Linked DNA regions of Homo sapiens: region 1 is linked to region 2. Evidence: fine-mapped QTL for protein levels in blood plasma. A gene starts in region 2. The other region holds a variant in brackets. All regions are shown on one strand. Distances are from middle to middle. Region 1 overlaps C6orf89 (chromosome 6 open reading frame 89). Region 2 holds the start of PPIL1 (peptidylprolyl isomerase like 1).

Region 1 (13,480 bases), 20 kb after region 2:
TGACTTAGGACTTTATCTTAAAATGATTGTTATTAGGTATTTAATTTGTCTGGCTATTGGAACAAATGTGTTACATCATTTTATAATTCTCTGAAATAAAACATTGTGGGGTAGAAATAATTATCCCCATTTTATACATGAAAACTGAGGCTTAGAGAGGATGAGTAGTGTCTCATGGCCACACAGTAAGTGGTAAAATCTAGAATTTGCATCCAGCTTTTTCCAACTCCAGTATCTGTGTTCTTAGTCACCATGCTAAACTGCTCCTGCAGAGGATGGGGAGTCTTGGAAGGTGCTTAGCATGAGCCAATTTGTGTTTCAAAAAAATAAGTGGCCGAGTGCAGCGGCTCACGCTTGTAATCCTAGCACTTTGGGAGGCTAAGGTGGGTGGATCACTTGAGGTCAGGAGTTCAAGACCAGCCTGGCCAACATGGTGAAACCCATTTTTTACCAGAAAAATACAAAAATTAGCTGAGTGTGGTGGCGCGTGCCTGTACTCCCAGCTACTCCAGAGGCTGAGGCACGAGAATCTCTTGAAGCCAGGAGACAGAGGTTGCAGTGAGCTGAGATCATGTCACTGCACTCCAGCCTGAGCGAAGAGTGAGACCCTGTCTCAGAAAATAAAAATAAAAAACTGGACAAGGTAGAGAATGGATTGGGGAAGAGGAGAACTGGAAGTATAGAGATTAACTACATCTTTGTGATGGTCCATAGGAGAGATGTTGAAGACCTTAACTGTGCTGTTAATGTAGAGAGGAAGGGATGAATGTGAGAATTATATAGGAGGCTGAATCAAGAGGACTTAGTGATAGTTTCATTGGTGGGAGTGAGGTAGGAGGAGAATAGTTTTTAAATTTGGAGGATTAGTGTTTCCATTAAGAAAAGAGGTGCAGTGGGAGGAATGAGTTGAAGGGGAAAACAGTAAGTTGGGTTATAGACACATTACATACAGGGAGCTATGGGAAACTTGGATCACCGTGTCTGGTAGGCAGGTAGATAAATGGGTCTTGAACCCTAGAGAGAGTTGTAGACTGGAGAAGAGATTTGGGAATCACCAATAGCTGGTGGTCAAAGTGTTGGAGGGAATAAGAAGGTCAAGGATAACTGGTGGATACCAGCAGAGAACGAGAGAATTATGTTAAGGTTTGAGTACACTTGAGGGAGATAGATAATGGGGTAGCAACAGCAGCTGCTGCAGAGAGGTCAGATAAGGTAATAACTGAAAAAAACGTCCTTCGAACTTGGCGTTTAGAAAGCCATTTGTGGCCTCAGTGAAAGCAATGTCGGTGGAGTGAGGAGGCAGAAATATGATTTCAACAGGTTAATAAATGAATGGAAACCTGAGAAACAAGAAAGTGTGTTACTTTCTCCCCCCAACCCCCAAAGGAGCTTTCCTCTGAAGGGAGGGAGGGAGAGAGTACCAGAAACTTAGAAAGGAACTATTATGGCATTTTTCTGATAGTAGAAACTGGAAAGGGTGAGGATGGAAGCAAGTAGAGGTAAGCTTAAAAATGTGAAGACTTCTTCAAGTATGTCAATGTCCTAAAAGACCAAAAAACAAAAACAAAAAAAAAAAGAAAAACCACACACTGGGGACTTGTTCTGAAGTTAAGTAGATTAAAGAGAGGCATGGCAGCCAAATTCAATGTGTGGTCATTGGTTGGATCCTGGATTTTTAAATAGCTATATGATCTTTTTAAAAAAATTTGATAGTTAAGGAAACTTGACTATAGACTGAATATTAGGTAATATTAAGAGATTACTCATTTTAATGGGTATGGCAATAATGCCAATGGTTGTGTGTAGAATAACGTCGTTATTCTTAGGAGATGCATGTTGAAATATTTAGAAATGATTTTATAATGTGTTGCAAATAACTTTCAAGTAGTTCTGGTAAAAACAGAAAGAAAATATAGCCAAATGTAAACAACTGGTAAATCTAAATGAAGGATATCCAGGTGTTCATTGTACTATTTTTGTACAAAAAGCTTTACACATTTAATGTGTACAGCTTGATGAATTTGGACATAAGTATGCCCTTGTGAAACCATCACCATGATCCATGCCATCAACCTATCCATCACCTTCAAGTTTCCTCCTGCCTTCTTACTTATTATTACTATTAGCAATAAGAACACTTAACATAAGACCTACCTTCTTAGCATATTTTTAAATATACAATACAGTATTGTTAACTCTGGGCACTGTGCTGTATAGTAGGTCTCTAGGAGTTATTCATCTTGTATAACTGAAACTTTGTATTCTTTGCCCAGTACCTCCCTGTTTCCCCCTGCCTGCAGCCTCCTGCAACCACCATTCTGTTCTTTGCTTCTATGAGTTTAGCTATTTTAGATTAATCGCACAAGTGGTATCATGTAGTATTTATCTTTCTGTGTCTGGCTTATTTCACTTAGCATAATGTCCTCCAGGTCCATCCGTATTGTTACAAATAGCAGGATTTCTTTCTTTTTTAAGGCTGAATAATATTCCATTGTATGTATATACTACATTTAAAAAAAAAATTTTATTCTTTTGACACAGAGTCTCAGTCTGTTGCTCAGGCTGGGGTGCCATGATGTGATCTCTGCTCACTGCAACCTCCACCTCCCAGGTTCAAGTGATTCTCATGCCTCAGCCTCCCGAGTAGCTGGGATTATAGGCATGCGTCACCATGCCTGGCTAATTTTTGTATTTTTAGTAGAGACAGGGTTTTGCTATGTTATGTTGGCCAGGCTGATCTCCAGCTCCTGGCCCCAAGTGATCCACCCGCCTCAACCTCCCAAAGTTTTGGGATTACAAGTGTGAGCCACTGTGCCCTGCCTGTACCTTGATTGTAAATTTTAAGCATTTATTGTAGTTTTAAGTTATTACTCTTTTAAATCGTATTAATCATTTCAATGTTTTATCAGTTATTTTTCCTTTTAATTGATGTTTGTTTCTTTGTAGTGGTTCTTATTATAATCTAAGAAGCACTTTTTCTTTTTATTATTATTATACTTTAAGTTTTAGGGTACATGTGCACAACGTGTAGGTTTGTTACATATGTATATGTGTGCCATGTTGGTGTGCTGCACCTATTAACTCGTCATTTACATTAGGTATATCTCCTAATGCTATCCCTCCCCACTCCCCTACCCCACTACAGGCCCCAGTGTGTGATGTTGCCCTTCCTGTGTCCAAGTGTTCTCATTATTCAATTCCCACCTATGAGTGAGAACATACGGTGTTTGGTTTTCTGTCCTTGCGATAGTTTGCTCAAAATGATGGTTTCCAGCTTCATCCATGTCCCTATAAAGGACATGAACTCATCCTTTTTTGTGGCTGCATAGTATTCCATGGTGTATATGTGCCACATTTTCTTAATCCAGTCTATCATTGATGGACATTTGGGTTGGTTCCAAGTCTTTGCTATTTGTGAATAGTGCCACAATAAACATATGTGTGCATGTGTCTTTATAGCAGCATGATTTATAATCCTTTGGGTATATACCCAGTAATGGGATGGCTGGGTCAAATGGTATTTCTAGTTCTAGATCCTTGAGGAATCACCACACTGTCTTCCACAATGGTTGAAGGAGCACTTTTTCTTTACTAGAACATATATTTAATTAATGGGATCACTGGATAAAATAGAATGGAATATATTCATAACACTAAAGAATGGATACCATACTTCATGGGTAGTGTAATATTAAAGAGCCAAGTAGAGAAAAAAGAAAATTTAATTTACTCTGGATATAGCTCCTAGTGTTGAAGATTGGGATGTATCTTGATGGACTTTTGAAACTTTCTTTTGAACTGTACTGTTTCCCCTTTTGTGCTTTAACTAGATGAATCAGTTTTCTATCCTAGAGTTACCTCGCTGGCATAGCTCTTCAGAAAACAGAACGTCCAGGGTAATGGCATATCAGTGTTCAGGACTTACTTATCTCTATAGAGGAATTAGTTCTCTGTTAAACAGGGCAAAAGAGAAGTTTACATTTCTCTTAACTTCTTTTCTGCTTTAAAGAAACATTTGTATTGGTAAGTTCTATCAGAGTTTTTCTGTCAGATATGCCTCTACCCTGTTTCTTCATAGGCAGAGACCCAGAAGGAATTGTGGAGAACATCTCATCAGAGCTCTCAGTTGTCTCCTCCTATTTCTGAAGTACTCCAGAAGTGAAACAACTCCCTGGCTTACCTCCGACAGGCCTCTCTTGAAAGCAAGGTTTCTTGACCTCGTTTTGAGGAGGGGTAGGAGGAGGTTCTCCTGTGCATTGCAGGATGTTTAGTCTTTACCCACCAGATGCTAATAGTACCCCTCCAGTTTGTTGATTTTTAATTTTTTTAAAAGAGCTGGAGCCTCCCTGTGTTGCCCAGCCGGGAGTGCAGTTGCTGTTCACAGGCGTGATCGTAACTCACTGAGCCTCTAACTTCTGGCCTCAAGTGATCCTCCTGCCTCAGCCTCCCGAGTAGCTGGAACTATAGGCATGTGCTGCTGTGCCCAACTCCTGTCCAGTTTTGATAATCAAAAATGTCTTCAGACATTGCCAAATGTCCCCTTTGGAGCAGAATTACCCTGAGAACTATTGTTGTAAAGTAGTGTCTCTTAATTGGGGGTGTGTGCCTTTAATCAGCAGAGAAGAGGCTTGAAAGCGTACACACCTGAGCTCCACTCCTAACAGTTCTGGCAACTTAGCATATCCGAGGTGGTGCATGATACTTTGATCCTAATAACTCCACTAGTGATCCTGCCTGTGCCCTTGCAGGTCTATGCCACTGTTAGAATCAGGCTAACTCTTCAGAACTTCCCCCTGTAGCAAAGCTCACTTTGGCCAGAGTTGGAACTACTTTCTGCAGGTAAGTGGATTGCCATCAAGCCTCAGCCGATTTCACTCAATCCTCTCATGCTTGATGCATAGTAATGACCTTATGTTTGAATTTTTTTTTTTTTTTGAGACGGAGTCTCGCTCTGTCGCCCAGTCTGGAGTGCAGTGGGGCAATCTCTGCTCACTGCAAGCTCTGTCTCCTGGGGTCACGCCATTCTCCTGCCTCAGCCTCCCAAGTAGCTGGGATTACAGGCCTCCGCCACCGCGCCCGGCTAATTTTTTGTATTTTTAGTAGAGACGGGGTTTCACTGTGTTAGCCAGGATGGTCTTGATCTCCTGACCTCGTGATCTGCCCGCCTCGGCCTCCCAAAGTGCTGGGATTACAGGCGTGAGCCACCGCGCCCGGCCTTGATTTTTTTTTTTTTAAGGGATGAGTTTTTTTGTTCTTGTTTAATTACCATCGTATCCAACCAAATCCCAATAGTGTCCCTCTAGCAAGACAATAAAAAATGTCTCCAGGCATCCCTGGGGGCAGAATCTTTTCCAGTTTAGGACGACTGATATAACCAAAGCCAAAAAGAGGGCTTATCACAATCCACAGGTATTCTTAGAAACGTCACTAAGTTGCTATTAACTACCTTTCTGATAACTTGAGAAATGTGTCATAATCTCTCGGAAGAAGGATGCATGGCTTGCAAAAATATATTCAGTGTTTTAATATCATTTTAACTTGAATTACCCAACAAGAAAAGAAACGTATTTTTTTGTGTGTGATACAAACTGGGAGTTTAATAAGATTTTTATGTGTATCAAAAAGGCTTACAGGCCAGGCGCGGTGGTTCATGCCTGTAATCCCAGCACTTGGGAGTCCAAGGTGAGTGGATCACTTTAGGCCAGGAGTTTGAGACCAGCCTAGCCAATATGGTGAAACCCTGTCTCTACTAAAAATACAAAAATTAGCTGGGTATGGTGGCATGTGCCATTTTTTATTGTCTTGCTAGAGGGACACTGTTGGCATTTGGTTGGATATGATAGTAATTAAACAACAAAAAATATCATCCTTTAATCCCAGCCTGTAATTCCAGCTGCTCAGGAGGCTGAGGCATGAGAATCGCTTGAACCCGGGAGGCGGAGCTTTCAGTGAGCCAAGATTGCACCACTGTGCTCCAGCCTGGGCAACACAGCGAGACTCTGTCTCAAAAAAAAAAAAAAAGGAAAAAAAGGAAAAAAAAAAGACTTGAGGAGGCTTACAAAGGTTGCAAAACAGCCATCAAAAATAATGATGATTAATCCTGTTTTCCTCACCTGTACTTTTGTCCCCTTCAGGATTCTCCTACCGGCACACCGTGTTCTCTTCTGTGTGTGATGTTCTCTTCTGCCTCAGGGATACTTGCTTGTGACCCCACCTCCCAGCATCCACACTAGTTTTTCACTGGAATTTGTTTCTAGCAGTCCTTTCTGGATCCTTTCCATTCTGGTCCTCTACTGAGTTTTAATGGGTTTTGACTGGGTATTGTTAGATAATGAATTGTAACATATTTAAATGAATATTATTCCTACTTGCTTTCATAGAATGTCTTTGTTAGTTTAAACAGGAAAATGGCATCTCAGAATCACTGATCACAAAACCAAGATGTGAAAAATGTTGTAATAAGTTATCCCTTTACTCTATTTGCAGGAATCATTGTAGTCAATCATTTTCCAGTTCTCAGCCGCTCAGTTGTGATCAAGGGACACGTGGTTTCCGAACTGCCAGCTCAGAATAGGAAAATAACTTGGTAAGGGAGGCAGCATGCAACAACCCTGAAGTCAGGACACTTGGGTTCACATCCTGGCAAGTTATGAAACCTTTCTGAGCCTTGAACATGTATGAAATGGGATCGATCACAGCTACCTTATGGGATCACAGTGGTGATTCACTGAGATAATATTTCCAGAGTGTTTAGCAAGGCACCTGGCATATAGGGTGGGAACAGGAATAGGAGTGCAATTGAACATGAGTCTTCAGTTTCTAATGAATTGAATTTTTCTCCTTCCTGAAGTGTTCATAGATTCTTAGAATTTTAGAGCGAGACTCTAAAATTTGTAGTCCAATCCTCTTATTTTTTGGATGCAGAAGTAGACCAAGTAATTTAACCGAAATCATCTCACTAGCAATTGGCAAAGCTTGTCTCCAGGTTCAATGCTGTTTCATTTTTCCAGCTGTAATATTTGAATACAACTCTATAGAGAACCAAAAAGTCATTGGCATGGCAAATCATGCCTTGCTTCTTCCCTATGGTGCCATGGTCATGCATTGCTGTACATCTCTGACTCATTTTGTGCCCAGTGATGTTCCTTAGAAGTGACTGTGAGAATTTTGTGATTACAAAATTGATACAGGAAAAGTTTGGGAAATATGAAAGTCACAAAGAAAATAAAAACCAGCTGTGATCTCATTTTCCAGAGATCATCTACTCCTGAATTATTTTTAATTGGAAATGCTACATCTTAATTTCTGGGGGTTTTTTTGGTGTTATTGTTAGTATGGCTCTTAATGCTTTGTAATCCATCCTCCTGGCTGCTAATCAAAAATGGCTTAGTGAAAAGAATGTGGGGTCGAAATGAGGCTCAGGTGACAACCGACTGGGTGGTCTCAGATAAGTCACTTCCCATCTGGAAATCTACTTTATATCTCTATAGATTTGCCTATTCCTTGCAGGTTTGTTAAAAAGGTATTAAGAAAAAAAAGATGTGTCTATTCCTGACTTCTCATCTAAATGCAGCTATATAATCTGTAGTTTTTCGTGACTGTCTTCTTTCACCTAGCATAATGTTTTCAAGGTTCATCCATATTGTATCATGTATCAGTACTGCATTCCTTTTTATCGTCCAGTGATTTTGCATTATATGGCTCTACCACATTGTGATTATCCTTTCATCAGTTCATGGACATTTGGATTACTTCCATTTGGGGGCTGTTATGAATAATGTTGCTGTTCACATTTGTGCACAAGTTTTTGTGTGGACATATGTTTTCATTTGTCTTAGGCACATACCTAGAAGTAGAATTGCTGGGTCATATGGTAACTGTGTTTAACTCTTTGCGGAACTGCCAGGCTGTTTTCCATAGTGGCTGTACCATTTTATGTTTCAATTCCTCCATGTCCTTACCAACACTTTTTGTCTGACTTCTTGATTGTAGCTATCCCAGTGGATGTGAAATGATATCTCACTGTGATTTTGATCTGCATTTCTCTGATGGTTAATAATGTTGAGTATCTTTTTGTGTGTTTATTGGTCCTTTGTATATCTTTTTTTGAGATGGAGTCTCACTCTGTCACCCAGGCTGGAGTGCAGTGGTGTAATCTTGGCTCATTGCAACCTCTGCCTCCCAGATTCAAGTGATTCTTCTGCCTCAGCCTCCCAGATAGCTGGGATTACAGGTGCCTGCCACCACACCCGGCTAATTTTTGTATTTTTAGTAGAGACAGGGTTTCACCATGTTGACCAGGCTGATCTCGAACTCCTGACCTCAAGTGATCTGCCACCTTGGCCTTCCAAAGCGCTGGGATTACAGACGTGAGCCACTGCACCCAGTCCATTTGTATATCTTTTCTGGAGAAATGGCTATTCAAATCCTTTGTCTATTTTTTTATTTGGTTGTCTTTTTATTACTGATTTGTAATAATTCTTGATGTATTCTATATAGACCACCCCCTTATCAGATATATAATTTGCAAAAATTTTCTCCCATTCTGTGGCTTGTCATTTTACTTTCTTGATGGTATTGAGACACAGAATTTTTGAGGTTTTTCCCCTCCTCTTGTCTTCTACAAAAAGTTTTTAATTTTGATGAAGTCCAATTTATTTTTTCTTTTGCTACTTGTTCTTTTGGTATCATATCTAAGAAACCATTGCCGAATCCCAGAATCATGAAGCCTCCCTCTCTGTGTTTTCTTCGAAGTTTTATCATTTTAGCTTATAAATTTAGGTATTTGATCCATTTTGAGTTAATTTTTGTGTATAGTATAAAGAAAGGGACAGGCATGGTGGCTCACACCTGTAATCCCAGCACTTTGGGAGGCTGAGGCAGGCGAATTGCCTGAGGTCAGGAGTTCGAGACCAGCCTGGCCAACATGGTGAAACCCCGTCTCTACTAAAAATCCAAAAAAATTTGCTGGGCGTGGTGGTGGGTACCTGTAATCCCGCTACTTGGGAGGCTGAGGCAGGAGAATCGCTTGAACTCGGGAGGCGGAAGTGGCAGTGAGCCAAGATCGCGCCACTGCACTCCAGCCTGGGCAACCAGAGCAAGACTCTGTCTCAAAAAAAAAAAAAAAAAAAAAAGAAAAGAAAGAAAGGTCCAACTTCATTTTCTCATTTGTGGATATCCAGTGGTCCTAGCATCATGTATTGAAAATAATACATTAAAAATTATATAGCTGTCCCTTGGTATATGTAGGGTATTCGTTCCAGAATCTCCATATACACCCAAATCCTTGCATATTCAAGTTTCACAGTTGATTCTTCAGAACCTGTTTATACAAAAAATCATCCCTCTGTATATGTATATGCAGTTTTTGCACCCTGAAAATACTGTATTTTCAATCCTGGGTTGGTAGAAAAAAATCAGCTTTTAAGTGTATCCACATAGTTCAAACCCATGTTGTTCAAGTCTCAACTGTAGTTTGTACTGTCTTTTTATCTGAATGTGGGGGGTATAGTGTGGTGGGCTCTTCTCTCATTCCCCCAGTTCCTGGAAGTCTAGATTGCATGCCTTTTAATCCACCATTAGAAGTCTTCTGATTCTGATTTAATTGCTCTGAGTTGATGCCCAGGTATGAGCATTTATGAAACGCTCTCTAGGTGATTCTAATGTGCAAGCCAGGTTAAGACCTAATGAACTAAACACTTAATAGTCGTAAAGAGGACCAAACAGGAGTGATTGGGAGGCACACTGCTGGAAGAGGAGGTGTGCTGGCGTGCGCTGGGTTGTGTTGTAACAACATGACTATGTCCTCCACCCTACAGGTGGCAGCATCTCCTTACTGAGAGAATACACGTACTATGTCAGTACTTTTTGGGGCTAGAAGTACTGTAGGAATGAAGTATGCAAAATAAAAGGACCCTCTGTATTGAAAATAAATATATAAATAAATAAAGCCCAGTAGAAGAGAGCACAAACCCGAAGAAGCACTCTTCTTCCTCCTGTAAATGAAGAAAAATATTATTGTTCTGTAACTTAAACACCTTTTTAAATAGCCATTTAATTATTTTATCTTATTTTATTTCTCTAGAGATGGGATCTCGTTCTGTCTCCCAGGCTGGAGTGCAGTGGTATGATCATAGCT[C/T]ACTGCAGCCTCAAACTCCTGGGCTCAAGCAGTCCTCCCACCTCAGCTTCCCAGGTAGCTGGGACTACAGGTGTGTGCCACCAGGCCAAGCTGATTTTTAAAATTTGTTTTTCTTTTCTTTTCTTTTCTTTTTTTTTTTTTGAGATGGAGTTTCGCTCTTGTTGCCCAGGCTGGAGTGCAATGGCGTGATCTCGGCTCACCACAACCTCTGCCTCCCGAGTTCAAGAGATTCTCCTGCCTCAGCCGCCCGAGTAGCTGGGATTACAGGCACCCGCCACCATGCCAGGCTAATTTAGTATTTTTAGTAGAGGCGGGGTTTCTCCGTGTTGGTCAGGCTGGTCTTAAACGCCGGACCTCAGGTGATCCGCCTGCCTCAGCCTCCCGAAGTGCTGGGATTACAGGCACGAGCTATTGCGTCCAGCCTTGGAACTATTTAATTTCATTTTACAAATGATACAGAGAGAACTCTACTTTGCCCCATTAGTTTTTACCTTTTGTTCTCTGGGCATGATGAAACAATCTGTCTTTAAAATAACTATAGGAACACAAATTGAATTTTTAAATTAGTTAAAAATCTTAGGTATTTTAAGTATATAAAATACAAATAAAATGCCCTTTATTTTCTAAAATTGTATTTGTAGAAAAGCATGAGGACTCTGGTTGCTCCAGAAGAAATTAAAAAAAAGAAGAAGAAAGAAAAGTGTGAGGACTGCAAGCCACATGCCATGGTTTTTGTGTTGTCTGAAATCTTTGCTCTGCCAAGAACAAAGCTTATCAGCCTGTTGCTCTCAGTAAATCACCTTCAGTAATCTTCAGTGATCAGTTCTTCCTCTTGTGTTGAACACAAATGTTCAACAACAGCGTTAAACAACACTGTGCATAATCCATTTTTTTTTTATTTTAAGGAATCTCCAGTAGCAGATCTCCCATCATTGGTGTCAGAAATCTTTTTTGGATGTCATTAGTGCTTCAGAGTCCCATTAGGATATATTGTGCTCTAGACCAGTGCTCCTCAGTTTGCACTAGTTTGGGAACTAGTGCAGGTCTGTAAACTGTTCCTGGCCCACAGTTAACGAATATTTTAAAACTTGTATGGCAATTTGACATTGTCTCTGTGTATTCATTGTGTTTCATGAAAGTATTGGTCTGTAGAGGATTGAGGAAAGCACAAAACTGGTCCTTCTCTACAGATGGTCAAGTAGCTTTGAAGAGGAAGTACCTAAAGAAACCACCTTTCTTTTTACATTTATTTTCTCTCCGTCTCTCTCAGGGATTTTATATTGGAAGACATGGATCTTGCTGCCAACGAGATCAGCATTTATGACAAACTTTCAGAGACTGTTGATTTGGTGAGACAGACCGGCCATCAGTGTGGCATGTCAGAGAAGGCAATTGAAAAATTTATCAGACAGCTGCTGGAAAAGAATGAACCTCAGAGACCCCCCCCGCAGTATCCTCTCCTTATAGTTGTGTATAAGGTAAAATGTTTCCTGAGTTGGTAATTGCTTCAACAGAACACAAACTGTTCAACATTCTTCACAAATGCTATTGTTGACTAATCCCACCACTGAGCATTGGTTTTTCCGTGAATAAATTGGCCTTTGCTCTTGTTACCATGTGTTACTAGGAAATTTGACTGTGTTGTTAAAGGTCCTAGATGAAAGCTGCATATTTACAGTTAAATTATATTTGTGTAATATTATTATTTAATTTTTTATTATTTGTTTGTTTGTTGTGTGTGTGTGTTTTGAGACGGAGTCTCACTCTTGTTGCCTAGGCTGGAGTGCAATGGCGCAATCTCGGCTCACCGCAACCTCTGCCTCCTGGGTTCAAGTGATTCTCCTGCCTCAGCCTCCCAGGTAGCTGGGATTACAGGCGTGCGCCACCACACCCAGCTAATTTTGTATTTTTAGTAGAGACAGGTTTTCTCCATGTTGGTCAGGCTGGTCTTGAACTCCTGACCTCAGGTGATCTGCCCACCTCAGCCTCCCAAAGTGCTTGGATTATAGGCGTGAGCCACCACGCCTGGCCTTGTGTTTTGTTTTTTTTTGTTGTTTTTTTTTTGAGATGGAGTCACACTCTGTTGCCCAGGCTGGAGTGCAGTGGCGTGATCTCAGCTCACTGCAACCTCCGCCTCCCAGGTTCAAACGATTCTCCTGCCTCAGCCTCCCAAGTAGCTGGGATTACAGCCATGTGCCACCACACCTGGCTAATTTTTGTATTTTTAGTAGAGACAGGGTTTCTCCATGTTGGTCAGGCTGGTCCTGAACTCCTGACCTCAGGTGATCTGCCCTCCTCGGCTTCCCAAAGTGCTGGGATTACAGGCCTAAGTCATCGCACCTGAACAGATTTTTTATTTTTCTAGTCAAGGTCACACTGTGTTGCCCAGGCTGGAGTGCAGTGGTGCCATCATGGCTCACTGCAGCCTCGAACTCCCAGACTCAGGTGATCCTCCCATCTCAGCCTCCCAAGTACCTAGGACCACAGGCATGTGCCACCACACCTGGCTAATTTTTCTATTTTTTGTAGAGATGGGGGTTTTTCCGTGTTGTCCAGGCTGGTCTCGAACTCCTGGGCTCAAGTGACTTGAGTCCAGTCAATCACTGTCAGACTGAGTTCGAGACTGCCCACCTCAGTCTCCCAAAGTGCTGGGGTTACAGGTGTGAGCCACTGCAGCCAGCCTTTATGTATGTATTTATTTATTTTTTGAGACAGAGTTTCACTCTTGTTGCCCAGGCTGGAGTGCAATGGTGTGATCTTGGCTCAGTGCAACCTCCGCCTCCCAGGTTCAAGCAATTCTCCTGCCTCAGCCTCCCAAGTAGCTGGGATTACAGGCATGCGCAACCATGCCCGGCTAATTTTGTATTTTTAGTAGAGATGGGAGTTTCACTATGTTGGTCAGCTGGTCTCGAACTCCTGACCTCAGGTGATCCACTCACCTCAGCCTCCCAAAGTGCTGGGATTACAGGCATGAGCCACTGTGCCTGGCCTAATACTTGTATTTTTGGTAGAGGTGGGGTTTCACCATGTTGGCCAAGCTGGTCTCGAACTCTTGACCTAAGGTGATACACCCGCCTTGGCCTCCCAAAGTGCTGGAATTACAGGTGTGAGCCACTGCGCCCGGCCCCTTTGTGTATTATTATTATTATTATTATTATTATTATTATTTTTTTTTTTTTTTTTTTTTTTTTTTTTTTGAGATGCAGTCTCACTCTGTTGCCCAGGCTAGAGTGCAGTGGTGCGATCTTGGCTCACTGCAAGCTCCATCTCCCAGGTTCACACCATTCTCCTGCCTCAGCCTCCTGAGTAGCTGAGACTACAGGCGCCCATCACCACATCCGG
Region 2 (16,223 bases):
TCCACAGTAGTCAGACTGAGGGACAGCTGGGAATGGAAGTGGTACATCAACTTGCTGAAGAGCCCAGGATGTCATTTGCTGCCCATCTGAGATGTTTAACAAAAAACGTGTCACCTAATCAGCTAGAAAATATGAACTAGTGACCCAGGAGAGCCTAACTCCTGCTTGCCTTCCACCATAGACCTGCCAGTGGGCTGCTCAGTCATTCATTATACTTGAGGCTGGGTGCAGTTATTTGAAGATCTTTTGAGTGATTCAATTTCATTAAAATTACACCATGGAAATGTGACATTATGAAGGATCATGAACCAACTACAGAAATACAGAAAAGCTGTGGCATGAGCAACTCACACCTGAGTCACTTCCAATACTTGTACCCTAATCATGGACTCTCAGTTCACTGGTATTAAGAATTAAAATTTATTTCATAACAACATGAGGGGGAGAGAGGAAGAAGACAGGAAAGAAGTACATCGAAGTACCGACGGAACCCTTTCAGACAAAGAAAGTAGAATGAAGCAGGACTAGACTCTGCCTCCCTGTTGTGCCGAACCTCTATTGACTCCAATGGGGATGGCATCAGGTTCAATAGACCGAAGAGACCTAATGCCAGCAAATGAGACATGGGGTTTTATTGGGGACTTACATACAGGGCAGAGAGTCCAATGGTGGCGGAGAACCACAATGGCTTGCAAAAAGCATGCAGTTTATATAGCATTTCCACTTAGCACCTTCTCCCTAACAATCTCCACCTGGCAATCTTCATTCAACTCAAAACTCGGGGCCTCAACCCGTGTGCGGCCCATGTTTCACAGGACGAGCCAGGGGCTCAGATGTCCCTTTATAGACAAGGAAGGAACCTCCAGGTTGGCTACTCCTGGATTCCCTAGCTCAGAACACACATTCAGATGCGTCTGCCATACAGGGTCATTCTAAGGGTATGTTTCAGTTATTGCTATCAGGCACGTTTACCACATGCTCCCAACACCCAATAAAGTGAACATACAAAAATTAAAAATTAAAAAGTCAAAAGTTCACCAGCATCAACCAAATAAGAAAAGGGAACCAAACATGCTAAAATTGTAAAAAGAGTCAGCCAAGAGGAAAAAATAGAAAATTCTTCCATCTGTATTCCCTGAAACCAGTAACCAGGAAAGAAATGTCATGCTGAGATTCTCACAAATACCCTCCGATTCTGAACAGCCAACAGGGGAGTGGGTGAGCAGCTCTGAAAACAAAGCCCTTGAGGGCAGAAGCCCACACATATCACAGGGGCTCGGGAGTGGCAGGGCAGGCACGCAGGGCTGGCCACCTTCCAGGGTGCTGGGCCATACTTGGGGACTACCCAGAGCCTGGAGTGGTGACAGAGGGACACCACTGGCTGGTGGAGGGGGCTCTGGGACAAGACTTTAAGGGAGTCTGGGAAGATAGAACAGAGGCTAGCCCTCCCACAAGGGGCTCGCTCAGCATGAGCTGAGCTCCAGTTCTCTCCCACACCTCTTCAGGCTAGAATAGAATAGAGAGAAAGCAACCTAACATTTGAAGTGGGGAAGACAACCAGTTCCACATAAGTGGGGAGAATGACAAGGAGACTCCACTTACACTGTATCTGAGCAAGTAAAAGGTGGGGATAATGTAGGTGTTGACATCAAGCATGGATAAGATGAAAACAAATGGCATGGAAACTAGGCAAACATACCACAACCAACAGAAGGACAGAAAGGAGGAGGGGAGAAAGGAAAAGAAAACCCAGGAACTCAGCCTGGGAGAAAGTGGCTTCTCCATGGCTATCTCAAGCTATGGATGATTCAAGAGAAGTAAAAATATAATATAACAAAAGCTCAAAGACAAGATAATACACCACAGAATAAGATGAAAAGATTGCAGAGTGAAGGAAACAAATTTAGATTCAAATGGCATCAGTAATGAGCTAGTAGATAAATTAGAGCAGTAAAGAACAGAATAAAAATGACTGAAAATTGAGTAAGGCACAGAGTAAAGGTCTGAGATTATTTTAGTGAATGCAGGGAAAAAAGAAAAAAAAATCCTATCACACAATCAAAAGAAATATGATAGATATGGAAGGCAAAGGTGATGAAACAAATAACTATATTTCCTGAAATAGAAAATCCAGTAAGTATAACAGAGAAAATATTCAGAAATAGAAATCAAAAAATTAACCCTGATGTAAAGGAAGGAGTAAATCTGGCCTCAGTATTCTCCAAAACCATATTCAAAAATGAGAAGGCAGCCAGGCATGATGGCTCATGCCTGTAATCCCAACATTTTGGAAGGCCGAGGCAGGAGGATCACTTAGGCCCAGGAGTTTGAGACCGGCCTCAGCAACAGTGAGACCTCAACTCTATAAAAAATTTAAAAATTAGTGAGGCATGCTGGTGAATGCCTGTAGTCTCAGCTACTCGGGAGGCTGAGGTAGGAGAAATGCTTGAGCCCAGGGGATGGAGATTGCAGTGAGCCATGATTGTATCACTGTACTCGAGCCTGGGCCTAGGTGACAGAGCAAGATCCTGTCTCCAAAAACAACAACAACAACAACAAAAACAAACAACAACAAAAAACCAAACCAGAAGGCAATTGATCAGAAATGTCTAAAAAGATCTCAGAATGCTATACCCAGTTATGGTCTTTTTTTCTTCCTTTTAAATATTTTTATTTTATTTTAATTTATTTATTTAGAGATAGTGTCTCACTGTGTCGCTCAGGCTGGAGTGCAGTGGGCACAATCATGGCTCACTGCAGTCTCAACCTCCCAGGTTCAAGTGATCCTCCTACCTCAGCCTCCCAGTAGCTGGGATTACAGGCATATGCGACCATGCCCAGCTAATTTTTTATTTTTTGTAGAGACGGGGTCTCACTATGTCGCCCAGGCTGGTCTTGAACTCCTGAACTCAAGTGACCCTCCCGCCTCAGCCTCCAAAGTGCTAGGCTTACAGGTGTGAGCCACCATGCCTGGCCTAAAAAATTTATTTTAAAAAAGTAATTTATCTCTTACAGTTGTGGAGGCTGAGAAGTCCAAGGTCAAGTGGCCACATTTGGTGAGAGCCTTCTTGCTGGTGGGGACTCTGTGAAGTCCCAAAGTGGCACAGTGCATCACACAGTGAGGGGGCTGAGCATGCCAACATGCTATCTCTTTTCAAGTATAAAAGTAACAGGCAGAAATTCTGAAACATGAATGAACTTAAAAATACAACACATTCCAGCTCTTGTAACAAAAAACCACTGGACAATTGTGATTCTTGAGCATTCTGAAAAAAAAACACTAAAAAACCACTAGACAAGAAATCCTGCCCTCCAGCACTTGCGAAGGTAAAAGCGAAGCAAGTTGTGAACACTAAATACACTGAAACGTAGGACCCACACTGTAGCTGAAGGAATGATGAGTGCAGAACAGATAATAATAAAACTAACAACAAAAATTAAGGTCGGGGAAAAATAAGAATGGGTAGAAATTTAAGTACTAATTGCCTCATCTTTCACTGTAGGAAGTCAAATATTCTGTTCTATATATATGAAATTAAATGTAATATGTTCTGTTTTAAAAACAATAGCTTATATATCCTATTTTTTTGAAACTACTTCCATTTATCCTGTCATCCCTTAAACCAGACATGATGGGCACCAAAAGTTAACACTGTTCCTTTCTGAAAGATGGGATATTTAGGGATTAGTTAATGATGGTTAGAAATCTTTAGGAGCTATGCTTATGAATGATTTTTCCCCTTTTCTCTGCTTTCTTATATATTCTGTATTTTGAAATGCATCCATATACATTAAAAAAAAAAAAACCCAAAAACCTGAATGCTTCTGACCATAGATGATAAATCATGAGACGATTAAGAATGACAAAAAAGAACAAGACTGAGAAAAGACTCTGCTATAGAGAAAACCAAACTTGTTTAAAGGCAAACGAGCAGAAATTAGCAGAGAAGAAGCAGACTGAGAAGCAAGGGCCCTTGAAATGAGTAAGGGTTCCACCAGTTCACTAATAAACCCCATCTAAATGCCAGTAACTCCCAAATTAATACCTCCATACCAGGTCTTTCCCTGAACCCCATATTCCTATCCAACTACTTACTCATGAGCATAGTCGGCCCTCCCTACATGTGGGTTCTACATTCATGGGTTCAACTAACCGCGACTGAAAACATCTTGGGGGGAAGCATCTGTACTGAACATGTATAGAACTATTTTTCTTGTCATTACTCCCCAAACAATACAGTACAACAACTATTTACATAGTGTTTACATCTTGCCCCTACATCTATTCTCTAAACAGCAGCTAGAGTGATCCTTTTATTTATTTATTTATTTGAGAGGGAGTCTCAATCTGTTACCCAGGCTGGACTGCAGTGGTGCGATCTTGGCTCACTGCAACCTCCATCTCCTGGGTTCAAGCAATTCTTCTGCCTCAGCCTCCCGACTAAGAACCTGAGATTACAGGTGCCCACCAACCCGCCCGGCTAATTTTTGTATTTTAGTAGACAGAGCGTTTCACCATGTTGGTCAGGCTGGTCTTGAACTCCTGACCTCAAATGATCCAACTGCCTCGGGCTCCCAAAGTGCTGGGATTACAGGCGTGAGCCACCGTGCCCAGCCTAGAGTGATCCTTTTAAAGCATAGATCAGATCATGTCTTTCCTTTGCTCAAAACTCTCCAATGACTCACATCACATCTTACTCAGAATAAAACCCAGTCTCTACCATGCCCTATAAGGTATCATATCTTATGATTTCCAGCACAGGTTCCTGCCTCAGGGCCTCTGTGTTTGCTCTTCCCTCCATCCAAAATGTTCTCCCCACAGTTGCAAGGTTCACTTTCTTACTTCATTCAGATCTCTTCTCCAATAATGTCAGAGAGGAGTTCCCTGACTTTTCTACTAAAATTCCATCCCCACACCCTTTTCCTGCTTTATTGAGAGCAATAATTCTGTCTCTTTGTTTATAGGTATCTCCCTAGAGCTTAAAAAAGTATCTGACACAAAACAGGTACTCAGTATTTGTTAAATGAATGAATCGATAAAAGAACCCAGGATTTTATTATTCTCAAAATATTATAAAGTCTTTCCTTCTTATTGATCAGACTACTTGCATCACTATAATTCAGACAAATATTATTTGTTCTTAGTGAGCAGTACATGTAAGTTATGAAAAACTCTACCAAGCCTAGGAGTAAAGGTTGGTTTCTGGTCAATTCCACACATGTGTGTTTGAGGAAGGCAGGCGTTGTCACCAGAATCAACCAACACAGACCTTAGTAAGTGGAAAAGAGAGCTCTGGCTGCCTTATCACCTATTTACGACAGAGACTTCAGAAACTAATGCTGGCTTTAGAAAAAAAGACGAAAAGGAGAAAAAAAAAAGAAAACATAAACTAATGTTGGCTTAACTGTACCTGTCCCTGTTGGGTCACCTCCTTGGATCATGAAGTCTTTGATAATTCTGTGGAATTTTGTGCCATTGTAGTAACCTCGACGAGCCAACTCAGCAAAGTTCTTACAGGTCTTTGGAGCATGCTTCCAGTACAGCTCCAGCACAATGATTCCCATGCTGCAGAGGGAGAGGACAACAGCTCCAGTAAACAAAAAGGTCAGGGCAGACAGGAGTATTATGGAACTGCTCCAGGACTCTTGATTTTCAAGCTTGTAAGTCATGAAATTGTGATAACCACTGGATTTCATGCTCAGCAAAGGAAAACACCACAATGCAAGTAACATAAACACCCATTATCTTTTTTGAGTAAAACACGCAGGTGTTCTGGGTACTTCTTTTCAGCAAAATAACAAGCATGGAGAACTCAAAATTCTAATACTATACATATATACATATGTATATATATATAGCTATATCTGATTATCTGAAACCAATATAACCAACCCCTAAATTAGGAAAAAAATTCTTACACTTAATTTTTAATTTTTTAAAAAAAGAGACATTAAAATATCAGGAGTTCATATTTATTTAGAAGTTTCTGGGTGGGGGTAGGGACTGGGTAGATGGAAAATAGGAAGATGTTTAATGAATACCTTTTAAAAACTTTTGTATTTTTGATCCATGTAAATACATTACCTATTCAAAAAATTTCAATAAAAGGTACAGTTTGTGTTTGTTTGGGAGGGAGTATAACAAAGGCAAAACCTGGTAACTTTGAATCTTTGCACCTACCCAATAGGATGAGTGCTTTTTCCTCACCAGTACTACTAAAAGATAAGGAAGAGGCAAGAGAAAGGACGAGTGCCTTCCCCTCTACTCCAGCACATACCTAGACTTTAAGCTCCAAGGATGTGACAATTTTTTTTTTTTTGAGAAAGGGTCTCCTCTGTCACCCAGGTTACAGTGCAGTGGCACAATCTCAGCTTATCGCAACCTCCACCTCCCGGGCTCAAGTGATCCTCTCACCTCAGCCTCCTGAGTAGCTGGGACTACAGGCATGCATCACCAAGCTCAGCTAATTTGTTGTATTTTTTTGTAGAGATGGGGTTTCACCATGTTGCCCGGGCTTGTCTTGAACTCCTGGGCTCAAGCAATCTACCTGCCTTGGCCTCCCAAAGTGCTGGATTACAGATGTGAGCTATGGCACCTGGCCAGATGTGAGAATTGAGTCAACTCTGTATAGTCTGGATACCCAGTGCCTTGCACAGTGTAAACACTCTATAAGTATATGAGGAGTGTGCTAGAAAATAGCTAACAGCCTTTCTGCCTGAAATTCATCCAATTCATCTTTCACACTGCTCCCATTCAACACAGATTGACAGTTACTCTGTGTGTGGTACTCTTTCCCTCATGAAGCTTACATTCTGGAGGATATTTTCAAAATACAGAAAGTAGCCTTTTGGAAAGACAATCAGGAAGTACGTATACAATTCTGAAATGTGCATACCTCAGTAATTTCAACTTCCAAGTATCCTCTAGGAAAATATACAAAAGTGCCTAAGGATACAATATGTGCAAGGATGTTCATCTCAGTATTTGTCATAGCCAAAAAAAAAGGAAGCAACTTAAATGTCCTTGAAATAGGAAATGCCTAAAATATCAACTATCCATACTATGGGCAGCTACCTGAATTACTGAGTGAAAGAAAACCAAGTTACAGAAAAAACATACATACAGTATGATCATATGATCCCATTTTTTTGTTAAAAAAACATGAGAGAGGTTTATATGTACATAGAAAAAAGTCTGGACAATCATCCAACAAACTGTTGATGGTGTTTTCAGGAAGGAGGTGACTTTCACTTCTTACTCTGTATGTCTACATTGCTTGGATTTAACAATTTATTTTGTAACTTTAAAAAATACCAACAGGAGAATTCAGAAATTACAGGTTGGAGCCTGAAGATGTAGAATTTTGCCATATAAGGTGGGGAAGATGGCCAGGGAGCATGAAATGAACAGCATGAGCAAATAGAGAGAGGACTGACAGAACTCTGCTTTAGCTGAAAGCAGCAATGGGCAAGAACAGAAAGGCAGAGGACCTTGGCTGGTCCCTGGCTGTTGAGGGGAGAATGGCAGGTAGACAAGGGCCAGATGAAAAAAATCACCTTGAATGTCAGGATTAATACGTTTTTACTTTATACTGTTATAGCAGCAAGACGTTATTAAAGGTTTTTTGAGCAGGATCCCTTCCTTGTCCTACTTTGTAAAGATCACTTTGAGCTTTTTCCAAAGAGGCAATGGAATGAATAGAGCTAAAGGATCTAGCAAGGTGAGACGAGCACACCAGGCTCCAAACGAGGTTCTTCCAGTTACTAGCTGTGTGGCTTTGGTCAAGGCTTTAAGCTGTAAATTCCGGCGTTTCCTCCTGCTAATATTGAAAGGGAGAAAGTTAAATAATACCTTCATGATTTGAGTTGCTAAGATTAAACTAAATGAGATGACATACAGCGGGGCATGGCGCCAGCAGGTTGGTTACCACATCACTCTTTGATAGTGGGGAAAATGTGCTTCTTCCTGTATTTTACTGGAATTTGTTTCTACAACTGTATTACTTATCACGTAATGTTTACATGTCTGTCTCTTTCATTATACCGTAAGCTCCTAAAGGCAGGGCTGTCTGTGTTTTATCTACCTCTGTATCCTCAGAACTCATATTCCATATGCCTGGCTTGCGGACTCATTACACGTTTGTTGAATGAATGAATGAATGAATGAGCGGACTGGGGGAAGGAGGACAATCAGGCAGCTATTGCTGAGACCTCAGCACAAGACCCCGCGGAGCTTGGACGCGGGCGATGGCGGTCCCCTCTCAACCCTCTGGGGGCCGTCTCGGCCGCTGCTCCACGCCCCTCCACGTGGAGGCCGGCCTCCCGGAGGAACGCGCCAGGAACGCAGACCCGTGGTGAGGCCCGGGCTCCGCGTCTCCTCTGCCAGCCCCAGACGCCCGAACCCCCTCACCTGGTCTCCAAGTAAACGTTGGGTGGCTGCCAGGAATCTGGGGGAATTGCCGCCATAGCGAAGCCGGCGGCGGAATGCTTGTCTAGTAATTGCTACTTCCGGCGTCGATTAGCTGGGGACCCGTCGCTGCTGCACACTTCCGGTCCGTTCAACCCTTTCGATACCAGGATTTGGGTGGCCAAGACAAGGAAGAGGACGGTCCCTTCTTCCAATGCCGGGAAGCTGGGGTGGGAGACGAGAAGAAGCTGGGCTCAAGAACAGAGGAAAATGCAAACTTCATTCGCGGTGGTCTCCAAGTGGCGATACCGCGCCACTCTGGGCGATCTGATTGGTTCGTTTAGGCATGGAAGGCGGGAACAACCAGAAAAGCTGCGCTCTGGTTGGAGTTATGTCCTAATATTAAATTCGAAGAATTTCTTAGTCTCACAATTGGGCAGGGACGGGAAGGGGAGGCAGAGAATGAAAGAGGGTAGTTTAGAGATGCCAGTAAAGAATTTTTGTAAGGCGCTGTACGATGTACACAGTGCTTGCACTTTCTTATCTCATCTACTCCACAAAACAATTCTATAAGTAGATAGTATTATTACCATTTTTCAGATCTGAAAATAGACTCGGCAGTTAATACTTGTTTTTCCATAGTCATAAAGCAAATCTGAGCCTGCAGAATCCAAAGACGAGGAGTCTGAGGAGAAAAGAGAGGGAAGGGGCAGGAAGAAAATAGGAGATAAAGAAAGGAAGAGACAGGAGAAAACAGGACAAACGGATCAGAGCAAGAACAAGGCTTAACATTGGCTGGGATAGATGGTACCTGAAAGTTGTTAGGAGGGTTTGCGCAGGGCGCGAGGAACAGAAGCAAATTAGAGGAGCTATAATGTTTGGAGGGAGGACAAAAATGAAATAGAGTACCTAAACTTAACGCTGTAAATGCTTTGCACACCACTTAATAATGATGGTTGAATGTTTACCATGTGCCAGGCATCAAGCTAAGCATTTTATTGCGTATTTTCACGCTTAATCTTCAAAATCCCACAAGGTAGATATTACTATTCCCATTTTACTTTGAGGAAGCTGAGCCTTACAGATTAAATAACTTGCTTAAAGTACTACAGCTGGTGCACTTGTGCTCTTAACGACAGTTCAACTGTAATGTCCCTAATTGTCAACAAGGAATAAGGATGTACAAGGTTGTAAAGATAAACTAGACAGCTCCTTGAGAGAGGAGCTGGGCCTCCTTCATCTTTGTGCTCTTCTTGCACAGTACAGAGCACAGGGTGCTCAGCTTTGCTGAATGAATAATGAACGGAACACTACATTTTAAACTGATAAATGCTAAAGTATAATTTTTACACCTCCTGCAGTTTCAAGTTCATGCCCACCTTGTGGCCCTTGAGCTGGATGAAAAAGTCTTAATCCTTGGTCTGTTTAGTCTGTTGTTAAGTTGCCTTTCTCTGGACTTTATGTAGTTCTTTACTGTGTATCTCGGGAGTCATGTGCCATTCCCAGGCTCCAATGTCTGAATATTGAAAAGCCACCCCCAAGATCATGATCACTTTCTTCCTAAATCTTTTACTGCAGCTCCTACCAGTCACTTGGCACTGAGGAGACAGAGATGAGTCTCACACACACAGTGCCCTGCCCTAAAGAAACTCACATTCTAGGAGAGATGGGCAACTAAATACGTAGCTGTAGGAGCGTGGAATGAGGACTGTAATAAGAAGCACACAGTAGGTTGGGTGCAGTGGCTGACACCTGTAATCTGGCACTTTCGGAGGCCGAGGCGGGCAGATCATCTGAGGTCAGGAGTTCAAGACCAACCTGACCAACATGGTGAAACCCTGTCTCTACTAAAAATACAAAATAAGCTGGGCATAGTGGTGCATGCCTGTAATCCCTGCTACTTCGGAGGCTGAGGCAGGAGAATCACTTGAACACGGAAGGTGGAGGCTGCAGTGAGCAGAGATTTTGCCTTTGCACTCCACCCTGCACAACAAAAGTGAAACTCCATCTCAAAAAAAAAAAAAAAAAGAAGAAGAAGAAGAAGAAGAAGAAACACAGTTTTCCCTGAGCTCTGGTTACTCCAGAGTAGGTTTGGACAGTCAAAAATTTCCCCTGGAGTGACAGCCTGGGTTGAGATCCAGAAAATAAATTGGAGTTAGCCAGAAGCCATGAGGGGTCAAATCAAATCAAGAAATAAAATGTCTCCAATTCCTCAGAAGCCCCCCTACTAATCATTACCCATTCCTTCCTCCCAAAGGGTAGACCACTTTCTGCCTTCTAATATCATAGATTGGTTTTCCCTGTTTTTGAATTTTATATAAATGGAGTTATAAAGTACGTATTTTTTTGTGCCTGGCTTCCTTTCCTTAACAATATGTTTGTGAGATGTATTCATGTTGTATGTAGTGGCCATTTTTCATTTTTCCTTGCTGTGTAGTATTCTGTTGTACAAACATACCACAATGTATAATGGTGCTGCGATGGATATTTTGTGTATGTATCTTAGTGCACTTGTGCATGAATTTTTGGGAGTATATACCTAGAAGCAGAATTGCTGTGTCATAGGTAACATGTATAATTTAGTAGTTAACACTAGACTGTTGCAAAGTGGCTGTAGCAATTTTTTGTTTTTTTTTGAGACACAATCTCACTCTGTCGCCAGGCTGGAGTGCAGTGGCACAATCTCAGCTCACTGTAACCTCCACCTCGTGGGTTCAAGCGATTCTCCTGCCTCAGCCTCCCGAGTAGCTGGGACTACAGGCGCATGCCACCACACCCAGCTAATTTTTGTATTTTTAATAGAGACAGGGTTTCACCATGTTGGCCAGGATGGTCTCAATCTCTTGACCTTGTGATCTGCCCACCTTGGCCTCCCAAAGTGCTGGGATTACAGGCATGAGCCACCACGCCTGGCCAGTGGCTGTAGCAATTTATGTATGCACCAGCAGCCTGTGAGAATTGCTGTTGCTCTGCTTCCAAGCCAACTCTTAGTATTGCTAGTCTTTTTCATTTAAGGAATCCTGAAGCCTCTATAACAATATCTCAGTAGTAATTTCACTAACAACTAATGACTAATGAAGTTGAATTCTTTTTCCATATGTGTGCCATTTAGATATCCTCTTTGTGATACCTTTTTGTGTTCAAATCTTCTACCTATTTTTCTATTTGGCTGTTTTCTTATTTGTAAAGTTCCTTATATATCCTGGACAGAATATAACACTGGAAAGTTTCTAATTTTAATGTAGTCCAACATATGCATTTTCTCTCTTACAGAACATGTCAGTGTTGGACAGACATTATTGGACATCTCAATATTGCAGCTCTATAATTCTGTTTTGTTTTTATCATATAGATCTGCAATGCATCTAGAACTTATCTTGGTGTATGGTATGAGGTAGGAGCCAAGTTTCATTTTTTTCTATATGGATATACAATTGACCCAGCACCATTGATTGAAAGCATTATCTTTTCCTCACTCCTCTGTTTCACCTCTTTGTCATAAATCAAGTGTCCATATATGTGTTTTCTGGTTTTGGTCTCTCTATTCTGTTTCATTGGTTTCATACATTTATGTCACTGTCACACTACCTCTGTAGCTATAGCATTAGTCTGAACCCAGTAGTATTTTGTTTGCAGATTTCTTGTAGAAAGCAGTTAAGAGATTTGGCGCTACACACAGGGCAGGTTAAGGAGTCTGGGTTCAAATGCTGATCCTTCCATTCCTTATCTGTAAAATCTTGAGCAAGTTAACCTCTCCATAAACTTCAGTTTTGTTTGTATGAGGATGTTATGGGGCTATTTATGCCATAGGGTTGATGAAGTGGCTCCATGAATTGAAAGTGCTTAGTACAGTCTGTCACAGTGTTAAAGCAAACTAAATATGGCCTGAGAAGGGCTTTGTACTTCTATATTTGAGTCCTTGTGGATGAACTATAACCTAGCTTTATAGTCAGACAAATTTGAAAACTTAACTTAATAGTATATACCTGTAACAATAGCTGAATGTTGGCCAATCCCAGCGGCCATACTTCAACAACTCATAGACTGCCGAATGTTCAAATTGCATTCAAATAAGGCAAACACTGAGCTTTAACCAATCTCGCTGTTTCTGTACCTCACTTCCTATTGCTGTACGTTAGTTTACCTTTTTGTCTATAAATTTGTTCTGATCACGAGTCACCCCTGGAGTCTCTGTGAATCTGCTGTGATTCTGGGAGTTGCCCGATTTGCGAATCATTCATTGCTCAATTAAACTCCTTCAAACTTAATTCAGCCAAAGTTTTTCTTTTATCAGATGGTGTCAGGAATGGGATCTAAAGTGGAGCTTCTAGCGACCCCCAGGAGCACTGAGTGAACATGCAAGGTACCTGCAGGATCCACTTGTGTCTATTGATCTCTCACAGCAGCTGGGGATCACAGGTAAGCTCCCTCTCGGATCTCTCTTTCCTTTCCCTTTTTTATCTTTTCTATTACTCAGGGCAACCAGCTTGCCCAGAGATCACGTGTTGAAACCCCTAGTCAGACATTGGATTAAAGATAACGGGGCCCATCTGAGGGCAAATATAAACCTTGCCAGTTTGATATTGAGTGCTAAGCAGAGTGGCTAATGTCTGTGTTTTATCACATGTATTTTGCTCTGGCCGGAACAACAACAAAAAATTTTTCCTTTATGATGCGGCTTGGCCCCCAGTGTGATGGTGTGGCAAGCTGGGTCACTGGGGCCGCTGAGGGAAAGGGAACCCAGAAGGCTGGCATGCCAGCAAAAGAGTAAGAATTTCTTACCAGTCAGATTTTTGGCTTCTCTCTCTCTGTGCAAATGGTTGAATGAATGGTAAAAATCACTGTTTATTTATCTCTTCTCTAAGGTTTTGATTAATGCAAAAAAAATTCTGAGGTTAGTCTTAAACTGATGTATTTGTGCTATGAATTCGTTTTTCTGGGTCAAGGGGTACCTTAGGATAAAACACGGGCTTAGGACCCCACAAGCTCGCTGGTCAATAACAAACTTTCCTGCAGGTCCCTGAAACACAAAAAAAAAACTGGATGGGGTCTCCATCTTGTTTTATGTCCTTGGGAACTTGACCTCGTAACCACGTGGCAGTACTTTCTCTTGGTCTCCACCTTCTAGGGAACAGGGATTTTAGGGTTTATGCCATAGTTAGCTCTAAAAATTATCCTGAGTCATTAAAAGCCTCTGCAAGCTCAAAATTAACTACTCTAGACTCCTTCTGGGAAGGGCAGTAGACTGCTCTGTGCTGTGGCTCACTGGCCTTTCACACTGGCGGTTCCAGTTCCATTCCCTGCTTAGGAAGTAAGTCATTTCTGATTTAATATCTGCATAACCTTCTCTAGTCTCTTCTCCTCCACAGACTATCTTAAATTTTCCTTCCTCGAGCACCTAGGAAGTTACCTTTGGTAAAGTTCAAAAGCCAGAAATATCAGCCATTTGGCCTGGGTAAAATCAGTAATAAGAAATTTAAAAGGACTTTATTAAAGAGTGCTATGCTTAAAAGTCAGGTTAATTAAAAAATGAATATTCAGGCTCTAATGGCCTGGAATCCATGGGAAAAACAGGAGGCACCAGAAACCCTTTTCCTGGCCCTGTTCCTCCAAGGACTCCACCATAAAGCCAATAACCAATTAAGAAACTTAAAAACTGGCAAAAGAAAAATCTTACAACTACTATAGTAATCTTCTTCTGCCTGTCTGTCTAATTATATATGTATTGTGTGTAATGTTTATATAAAAGAGCTCAAATTAATTGGCTTAAACAAAAATAAGCACTTAAATATTTTGAAAGCAAAATAAAAACTGTAATGCCTCTTGGTTCATGTAACTTTAGTAATCTTTGGGAAATAAAAACAACTTTAAATATTATTGATAAAGACATTTTGTCTAAATTATGCAGGTCAGATATTAGCTTTGCTATATGCTTCAAGGTCATAAACTGCTTTGACTTTTGAAAATTGTTCAATTTATTTTGGAGACATTAAATTCTAAATAAGGCCTGGGGATATATGGAATTAGCCATGCCCCCTAGCTATACAAAGGCTATAAAGAAAATAGATTTCATTAAGAAAGGATGTTGTATGGTAAATTCTTGTCCTAAAGTAAAATGACTGGTTGTTTAAAAAGAGGGATGTTTAGGGCAAGTCAGAAAGTCTAAACATGTCACACATAGTCTGTGTAAGTTGTGAAAAAATTTATGAAAAGGAATTCATGCCAGACATGTTGTACAATTTAAGGTGATTAGGCCTCCTAAATGCTTCATAAAATGCCACCATGACTCTTAACTGTACAGCCTGCCTGCTTTATAGCTAGGTAAGGCCTGGGACACCTGTAGTTAGATGCTGGAAAGAGTCGGACCTTTATCTGCATTTCTGTCTGGGTCCTGGGCTCCACACCTAGTACATAATTAAAATCCTTACTTACCAAGGTTTTCACCAAAAGTAAAAGTTGCTAAGAGTTAACATTGTAATATGTAATTGAGAGTACTGAAAAAATAGGTTTACATGCAAGGTGTGTAAGGAGAATGAAATGTGTTTTTTGTAAGAGATTATAAGAAAATACAGGAATGTAAATTTTTGCCTAGGTTAGAGGGTTAAAGGATTGTTTTAAATTAAATAAAGCTAAAGGTTTGAACAAGTTGTGGAAGGTTTATAAAAATTAATTATAGGGGCCAGGCACGGTGGCCCATGCCTGTAATCCCAGCACTTTGGGAGGCTGAGGTGGGTGGATCACCTGAGGTCAGGAGTTCGAGACCAGCCTGGCTAACATGGTGAAATGCCGTTTCTACTAAACATACAAAAAATTAGCCAGGCGTGGTGTTGCACGCCTGTAATCCCAGCTACTGGGGAGGCTGAGGCAGGAGAATCGCTTGAACCTGGGAGGCCGAGGTTGCAGCAAGCCAAGATCACACCATTGCACTCCAGCTTGGGCAGCAAGAGTGAAACTCCATCTCGAAAAAACAAAACAAAACAAAACAAAACAATTAATTATTAGGATTCTATGTGTGAACATATTGGCTAAAGTTAAAATGGCATTATTCAGTTTTTTTTTCCATAAATGGGACATTGGAATAAAAGCACAACAGAGTTTTCTTAGAAGATTGTTCTGCTCTGAGAAAAAAAATAGTAAAGGGTTATAAAAGGTTTATAAAAATCTTACCTTATGGTCAAACTAATTAAAACTGAATAGATTTCTAAAATATTATTAAAAACTAGCTTTAACATTAAAAATACACTAATGGAAACATAAAATTTGGTTCCCTCTTTTAGAAAGGATTTTTATTTAATATTAAAAGATAATGAAAGGTTTTTGTTTACCTTTTAAATAAACAACAAAAAAAAATGGTTGAGGAAGGAAAGAAAGGAGATAGTCAGTTGGCCTCATGCTATCCTCATTGGATCTTGTTTGGAAAGCTGAGTCTCCTTTCTATCAAAATACTGTTTTTTCCTTTAAAATTTTTTAAGTTATCATTTTGGCTAAATGAATGACTTATGGTAACCTAAGATTCTATTTTGTAATATCCAATGTTTTAAACCTTTGGTATTTAACAAACCTTTCAAAATCAAGCTCTAGATTATCATGCTAAATAAGCCAATACTAAAATTGTTTAAATATACAATTTGAATGAACTCCATGGTCTAAGTCAAATTACCTATGATAACCCATTAGCTATCAGTGCTATGCACCTAAATTGGAGAAACAACTGGTATTCAAGAGGACGTAAGTCCCGTGTTAAGCATGGACTCATGAAGAACCAGGATGGCCACCTTGTCCTTCTTGAGTCCTTAAAGCTTTTGTTATTAAACGT

The links. PIP is the posterior inclusion probability: the model's chance that the variant is causal. Sun 2018 read protein levels with aptamers (SomaScan).
Region 1: its variant is fine-mapped to the plasma level of the PPIL1 protein (Sun 2018, PIP 0.95).

The regions. Positions count from the first base shown.
Region 1 is chr6:36,888,018-36,901,497 of GRCh38, forward strand. C6orf89 (chromosome 6 open reading frame 89) reads left to right here. Exons shown (of 9, transcript NM_001286635.2): 2 at 6,487-6,586; 3 at 11,409-11,616. The coding sequence starts at 11,428. Among named protein-coding and RNA genes, the nearest start is that of C6orf89, 8.8 kb to the left of the region's middle. The variant C/T (reference allele first, on the strand shown) is at 10,139.
Region 2 is chr6:36,866,307-36,882,529 of GRCh38, forward strand. PPIL1 (peptidylprolyl isomerase like 1) reads right to left here and starts at 8,497. Exons shown (of 4, transcript NM_016059.5): 1 at 8,411-8,497; 2 at 5,412-5,566. The coding sequence starts at 8,466. It also overlaps a transcript of C6orf89 not described here. RefSeq lists enhancers at 1,323-1,822, 8,488-8,717.